Homo sapiens: one gene and its partner. The protein of the gene in region 2 interacts with the protein of the main gene of each other region in a biochemical or structural test. Each region holds a gene or a part of one and is shown on either strand. Other genes may lie near its edges.

Region 1 (3,823 bases), on a different chromosome or scaffold from region 2:
TGGTTAGAACATCATATCCTCTCTAAGGCCGGGCACGGTGGCTCAAGGTCTGTAATCCCGGCACTTTGGAAGGCCAAGGTGGGCAGATCAACTAAGGTCAGGAGTTCGAGACCAGACTGGCCAATAGGGTGAAACCCCCGTCTCTAATAAAAATACAAACATTAGCCAGAAGCGGTGGCGCATGCCTGTAATCCCAGCTACTCGAGAGACTGAGGCAGGAGAGTCGCTCGAACCCGGAAGGCAGAGGTTGCAGTGAGCCAAGATCATTCCAGCCTGGGTAACAGAGCAAGACGCTGTCTCAAACAAAAAAAAAGAACATCATACCCTCTCTAAAAATCGTATCTCCTTTTCTTCCTAAAAATTGTTGCTCAAGCCTCACCTGCTTTCACAAGACTGCCGCACACCCTTAAACTCTTTATTAGTATAAAAACACTTTAAAGGCCGGGCACGGTGGCTCATGTCTGTAATCCCAGCACTCCGGGAAGCAGAGGCGGGCAGATCACGAGGTCAAGAGATCGAGACCATCCTGGCCAACATGGTGAAACCCCGTCTCTACTGAAAATACAAAAATTAGCTGGGCATGGTGGTGTGTGCCTCTAGTCCCAGCTACTTGGGAGGCTGAGGCAGGAGAATCACTTGAATCCAGGAGGCGGAGGTTGCAGTGAGCCGAGATCGGGCCACTGCACTCCAGCCTGGCGACGGAGCCAGAGTCCATCTCAAAAAAAATAAAACACTTTACTTCCCCTCTTCCTTTCCAACCCCGATTACGTAAACTAGTGTCTCTCAGCTGCTTTTAGTTATGCAATATATTTGTTATTATACCTGCCACCTGAGTGTTTTACCTGTCTGCTGCTCTGGGTAAAAAAAATGTCTTGACTTTGCTCACTGGGTGTAAATTAATTTTAAATAGTCCATAGCATCTTACATAAGCTCCTTCCTAATAGCACTGAGCAGCATTTTTTTCATCCCCTTAACATAACCCTAATCATTTTAGAGTGAAGAGTATATTAGCTTTGGTGTGAGACATCTGTATTTAAAACTGTCACTCGGCTAGGCGCGGTGGCTCACACCTGCAATCCCAACACTTTGGGAGGCCAAGGCTGGTGGATCACCTGAGCTCAGGAGTTCGAGCCCAGCCTGGCCTACATGGTGAAACCCCCTGTCTCTACTAATACAAAAATTAGCCTACATGCCTGTAATCCCAGCTACTCAGGAGGCTGAGGCAGGAGAACTGCTTGAACCTGGGAGGTGGAGGTTGCTGTGAGCCCAGATTGCGCCACTGCACTACAGCCTGGGTGACAAGAGTGAAATTCTGTCTCCAAAAATAAATAAATAAATAAATTTCTAAAAGTGAAAGGATATATACCTAACTATTAAGAATCACTGTATAAGGCTGGGCACGGTGGCTCACGCATGTAATCGCACCATTTTGGGAGGCCCAAAGTGGGCGGATCACCTGAGGTCGGGAGTTCAAGACCAGCCTGAGAAGCAAGGAGAAACCCCGTCTCTACTAAAAAATACATAATTAGCCAGTTGTCGTGACGCATGCCTGTCATCCCAGCTATTCGGGAGGCTGAGGCAGGAGAATCGCTTGAACCCAGGAGGCAGAGATTGCAGTGAGCCGAGATCGTGCCACTGCACTCCAGCCTGGATAACAACAGTGAAACTCCATCTCAAAAAAACAACCAAAAAAAAACCTGTCAGTTACCATCATTGACTCTTAAAATCTAAAGTTAATTCAAAATAAAAAGTTAAAAAAATAAAAAATTCCTCTGCCACTTGCTACTGTAAGTCATAATATTCAATCTCTCAGACCTCAATTTCTACATCTGAACAATAGGGATTGTACAGCCTACACCAAAAGACTGGTAGGAGGACAAAGCTGCCTCAAACTAGAGCTCCTCAAAAGCAGCATTTTGTTTATTTTTCAACAGGTATTTTACAGGTATTTATAATTTAAAAAGCATAATAAATGTCCCCTCACTCTAAACTTTGGTTCAATGGCTAGCTAGAATGCCATAATTTCTTATTTCTCAATGCTTAAGTGTCATCCACTGATCACTCAGCACAAGCATAAAGCACCACTGCAAACAAAAACAAATCCCATCCCTGCACAAACACAATATATTGAGATTACTATGATCATTCAACCTCTTCCATCTATCTCACATCTCTGTCTTTATTCCCAACTATCCATCTTTTTAATTTACAAATTCATTTACCTATTTCTTTTTTTTTTTTTTTTTTTTGGTTTTTGTTTTGAGACAAGGTCTCACTCTGTTGCCCAGGCTGGAATGCAGTGGCATGATCATGGCTCACTGCAGCCTGGACCTCCTGGGTTCAACTGATCCTCCCACTTTAGCCTCCCAAAAAGCTGAGACCACAGGCATGTGCCACTATGTTGCCCAGGCTGGTCTCTAACTCCTGGACTCAAGCCATCTTCCTGCTTTGGCCTCCTAAAGTGCAGGGATTATAGGTGAGCCCCTGTGCCAGGCCCATTTACTTATTTTTTATTTATTTATTTTTTTGAGACAGTCTTGCTCTGTTGCCAGGCTGGAGTGCAGTGCAGTGGCATGATCTCAGCTCACTGCAACCTCTGCCTCCTGGGTTCAAGCGATTTCCCTGCCTCAGCCTCTCGAGAAGATGGGACTACAGGCACCCACCACTATACCGGGTTAATTTTTTGTATTTTAGTAGACATGGGGTTTCACCAAGTTGGCCAGGATGGTCTCGATCTTCCGACCTCGTGATCCGCCCACCTCAGCCTCCCAAAGTGCTAGCATTACAGGCGTGAGCCACGGCACACAGCCCCATTTACCTATCAAGAAGGTTGAGTGTGCAAATACTAGTAAGCTCTGTGTCAAACGAAGTAAAATTAAAGATGTGAAGTGATGAGTGACTGTAACATTTACTGAGGATGAACTGTTCCCTTCACGAACAGACCAGCCCTAATTCAGGTGCTCAATTCTTTTCCCCTTGACTAATGATTTTCAAATATTTTTTAGCCATGAAACCCGACATATAAAACAGACATAAGCAGAAGCTGCTCTGGCTGAAGTGAAGAGGGAGTAGGTACAGTAGAACCCCACCAGCTCTGCCCTATGAAGCAGCTTAGGGCTCTATGAACCAATGTGAAATATTGTTCTAGATTAGTGGTTCTCAAAGTGTGACCCAAAGACCCCTAAAAGTCCCCAACACTTCTTCCAGGGGTTCAATGAAATCAAAACCATTTTCACAATAAAACTAAGACACTTTGCCCTTTTTCTTTACTGTTCTGACCTCTGTGCTGATGTGCAAAATCAATGGTGTGCAAAAATGCTGGGAACTCAGCATGAATCAAAGCAACAACCCCAAATGGTGCTGAACTAACACTCACTGAATTCTTCACTGTCACCCATTTACAATATAAAAAATTCCACTTTCACTTAAAAGGGTCCTTAATGAAGCAGCAAAAATTATTAGTTGTATTATTTCTCAACACTACAGCACAATTCTTTTTAATTCAGTATTGGGAAATACTCAAAAACTTCTGCTTACTGAAATACAAAGGATATCAAGGGGCAAACCACCTGTAATTACTTTTGAAAGCTAAATGTAGTTGTTTTTCTCATGGAACACCATTTTAATTTTTTTTTTTTTTTGAGACAGAGTCTGGCTCTGTTGCCCAGGCTGGAGTGAAGTGACGCAATCTCGGCTGACTGCAAGCTCTGCCTCCCAGGTTCACGACATTCTCCTGCGTCAGCCTTCCGAGTAACTGGGATTACAGGCGCCCGCCACCACGCCCAGCTAATTTTTTGTATTTTTAGTAGAGACGGGTTTTCAC
Region 2 (3,823 bases):
TAAAATGTTGCCTGAATTAAATAAATATCTGTAACTGATTTTGCATCTATTCATTTAAATTACTGTTGAATAAAATTAATGAAATTAAGCTCAAAGTAAAATTAGAATTTTTCATTAAGCATCATTTAGTTTTTAATTGATATAACAGATAGTAAATTTGATTAGTAATATATTTAGTTTATTGGATGTAGCTGAAATAAAACATTCTCTACTTTCACAGCACAGAAATACTTGAATAATTTACTGAATTCTAACATTTGTCAAGATAAGAATCTAAGGAAATATGCAGGTAGCAAAGTTTTACTGAACACCTACTGTGGAGTTAGGTAAAGGGATTAAACAATAAGAAGCTGAGATTTTTGCCCTTGAGGAGCTCAATGTAGTGGAGTAAAAAGCATGTATACCACAGAATAAAATACAAAGTTGTAATTGCTGTAATGAATAACAAGAGTGTCATGGGAAAAAATTGAAGAAAGCAATGAAATGGTCAGTTTCAGTGAGAAAGCAATGTTGGATTGAGCCAGTAATTCAGTATGATTTTCCAAAGTGGATTTCATATATTCTTTGTCATTACAAGTGAAAATTTTGGTCCTAGAAGTATGTCCTTCAAATATTAAACACCCATTTTTACAATGACGTGACTTCAGCTGTAGTGGATGCTTCATTTGTCTTTGAAATTACTGTCATCTTCTCATAATAAATCTAAATAAGCAGTCTCATCAGATCTGTATTATTTTACTAACCTTCCTGTGATTCCACTTGTGTAGTGGGCATCACTGTAGCTGTTGGGGTAGTAGTGGGATTTGTAACAGTTGCAGGTGTAACCATTGGGCGGATACTAGCCCTGGGTGTTGACTTATTTCCAGCCATAGCTGCAGCTGTCACTTTACTTGGAGTAGACACAACAGGAGTTGGCTTGATATTGGCTGTTGGTGGGTCTGATGTGCTGGCACTTATAGAGGAGAAAATGGAAGAATAATTAATAACAAATTATTATGCAAATACTTTTAAAAACACAGTGAGTATAGGTCTCCATTTTTTTGTTCACTAAATATTTCAGAGCCTTATTAAAGCTGTTTTGAATTTAAGCATTAAAAACTACACAGGGAATGCTCCAGAGTGGTGCATCCTGACAATGTAAAATGTATCTAGCTGTTGAATTGCTGAACCCAAGTCTCAGCCCAGCATTTTCTATCTGTCATCATGTAACATCACGGGGAAAATCAGTAGCAGCCTAACTTAGAAACCAACTGTAAACTAAAAGATGAGAGACGTTTTCTCTGTCACAAAGCTTCATCTGATAGGACTGAAAGTATGGTGAAAACAAGCTGGCAAATACATGATACAGTTCTGCAGAGAAAACAACTCTTTAGTGTATGTTTTTACAATAGAATACACAGATTTCTTTTTCCTAAACAGAAAGATCACTAGATATTCCCTGAGCTTTAAAAGAAAAATAACAGACTATGAAATAACTAAAACTCACATTCCTCTTTCACCAGAAGCTGGAGTTGTTTTCAATGTGATCTGTCTCTGCTGTTCAGGGACCTATAAAGAGAAAGCTCTTGATTGTTGTTCCTAGCCCACAAGAGTCCACTAAAAATGCCACAAAAAAATTGTCATTATTGTTAATTCTCTCCGCATATATTGAATTTTAGCCAAAATTCACTGACAAAGGCTCCTATATCACCAAGCACTTTCAAGTAAAATGTACAAAGAAAAACAATTTGTTACTTAAGCAGAATTAGCTAATCACCTTATTAGAAGGTTCTTGAGGCTCATCTCTCTGCTCAAGGTGTCTCTCTTGATGCTCCCTGAGTTCTCTTTCCAAGCGACTAATTCGACCTTCATATTGGGACTTTAGCGCAGTAATGCGAACATCCAATTCATCTTTCTGCTGATCTAAGGCTCCATTCCTTTGTTTAAGCTCCTCATTTTCTTTAGTTAGCTGATCTTTTACACCTAAAGAAGTAACCAGGCGATTATATTAATATTATAATCAAACATTTAAAACAGCATTTATGCACTTAATTGGCACATGGTCACATCAGATTCTACTACTATAACATCTACATTAGTTATGATACATCATACATCTCAATGAGCAAAGTTCTAAGTACATTCATGCTTTAACTTATTACTAGAATATAAAATATACTTACTCCAACATAAAAATTTACTTTTTCCTAACTAAAATCTCAAAAAGCTAAAGATCCTAGTTAACAGAAGCCCGTTTATATTTCAATGTATCATGCAATTCATTACTATGAATTGCAAAATTTTTATTTCATATAATCTACAGCACTGTTTAAAAATAATTCAAGAACTTTTAAAATCAAGTAAGTTGTTAGGACACTGTCTTAGAGATCATTTTAAAAAAATGCCTGTAACAAAATCCAACTGATTTGACATTTTATTTAACTACTCAGCAGACTGATAGGCAAGGCTGAATAAAGCCCTGAGCCTTGAAGAACTAGGTTCTTCATAAATTTGACATGATACTCTCCCTGAAAAGCTAGAGGGGTCCTCCACCAAACGAGGCACAAAAAAATCCCTGGGCTGGTAAAGATCTTTATGCAGTCTACATAAGGTTTCTAGACAGCACGGTCTGGGCTCAAAGGATCTCTGTCACAAGATAGAATTGTTATCCATGAAAGCAGAAGGATAGCAGTATTCCATTATCTACTGCCAGCCAACAATTGAGAAAAATTTCATCATATCAAGGATATCCTCATCACTTGAAAATTAGGATTGCTCTTTGTGTCCAACTAATTATTCCTAATATTTAAAGCACACATACACACACAAACACCCTTCATAAGTAGATACCTTTTATTTCTATTCCATTTAGTTTTAGGCCTGCAACACATAATCAACTTTCACTACCAAGTTCAAACTTTAAACAGATATTTACCAGCTAAGTGTGCAATTTTTGACTTTGCTGCTACAATAGCCTTTCTGGTTTTTTCTTCCTTTTCAGTTATCTGTTGTCGGAGCTGCTCCTCCTGTGTGGTTCTATCTTGAAGATCCTGACGAAGTCGTGAAAGTTCAGACTGAAGTTGCACAGTCTGTTCCTGGAGATTTCTTGCTTCTGTCTCTTTTTCAGATAATGTCTTTAAAGGAAAACAAAGTATTCACCATGGAATTCAATCATTTCAATATAAACTGTATGTGGTAGCAACTTAAAGTATAACTTATTAATTTGCTTTTTAAAAGATTAAATGGAAGTATAAGTATAAAAATGGTGGTCAGACCAACTAAATGCACACTTGAAGATGATTGGGTACTACTTACATACATGAGCCATTCAAAGTAAAAAGAATAAAATGTATCCATTCCCACATGGTAAGACAAAGTGTCAGTAGTTAACACATATTTCTTTAGGTGTATAACAGGAAAGAATTAGGAACAGACTGTTCTCACACTCATACCTTCTGCAGATTCTCTACTTGACTTTCAAGTGATTTTGATTTTGTTTCAGCTTGGTTGAGCGTTTCTTTGAGTTCCTGCATTTCCTGGACTGAAACATGCTGCTCCTGATGGTCTCCAGAGGACTGAGCCGATGTCTCCATAACCTAAGACAACAAACAGTAATAATACACTCACATATTTATATTCAGTAATTCCATTTCTGCAAGTTTGTCTAAGAAAATAATCACAGCTTTGCAAAGAAATTTTATCCCTGAAGGTATTCAAAACAGAATTTTCTATGAAACAACTGTAATCTCCAAAAATGGGGAACTAGTTATGGTTTTCCACATAACTGAATACTAAACAGCTAATCAAAATGATGCATTATAGTTGAATTTTCAACACTTAACTG

What was found.
Region 1: the proteins of TPR (region 2) and NUP98 form a complex in vitro, tested with the Homo sapiens proteins (one study listed by BioGRID).

What each region holds. Positions count from the first base shown.
Region 1 is NC_000011.10:3,787,273-3,791,095, forward strand, and holds part of NUP98 (nuclear pore complex protein Nup98-Nup96 isoform 1 precursor), read right to left. Parts: intron 1-3,823. UniProt on the Homo sapiens protein: Plays a role in the nuclear pore complex (NPC) assembly and/or maintenance. NUP98 and NUP96 are involved in the bidirectional transport across the NPC. May anchor NUP153 and TPR to the NPC.
Region 2 is NC_000001.11:186,333,582-186,337,404, forward strand, and holds part of TPR (nucleoprotein TPR), read right to left. Parts: intron 3,576-3,823; coding exon 3,432-3,575; intron 3,114-3,431; coding exon 2,915-3,113; intron 1,963-2,914; coding exon 1,757-1,962; intron 1,549-1,756; coding exon 1,487-1,548; intron 953-1,486; coding exon 744-952; intron 1-743.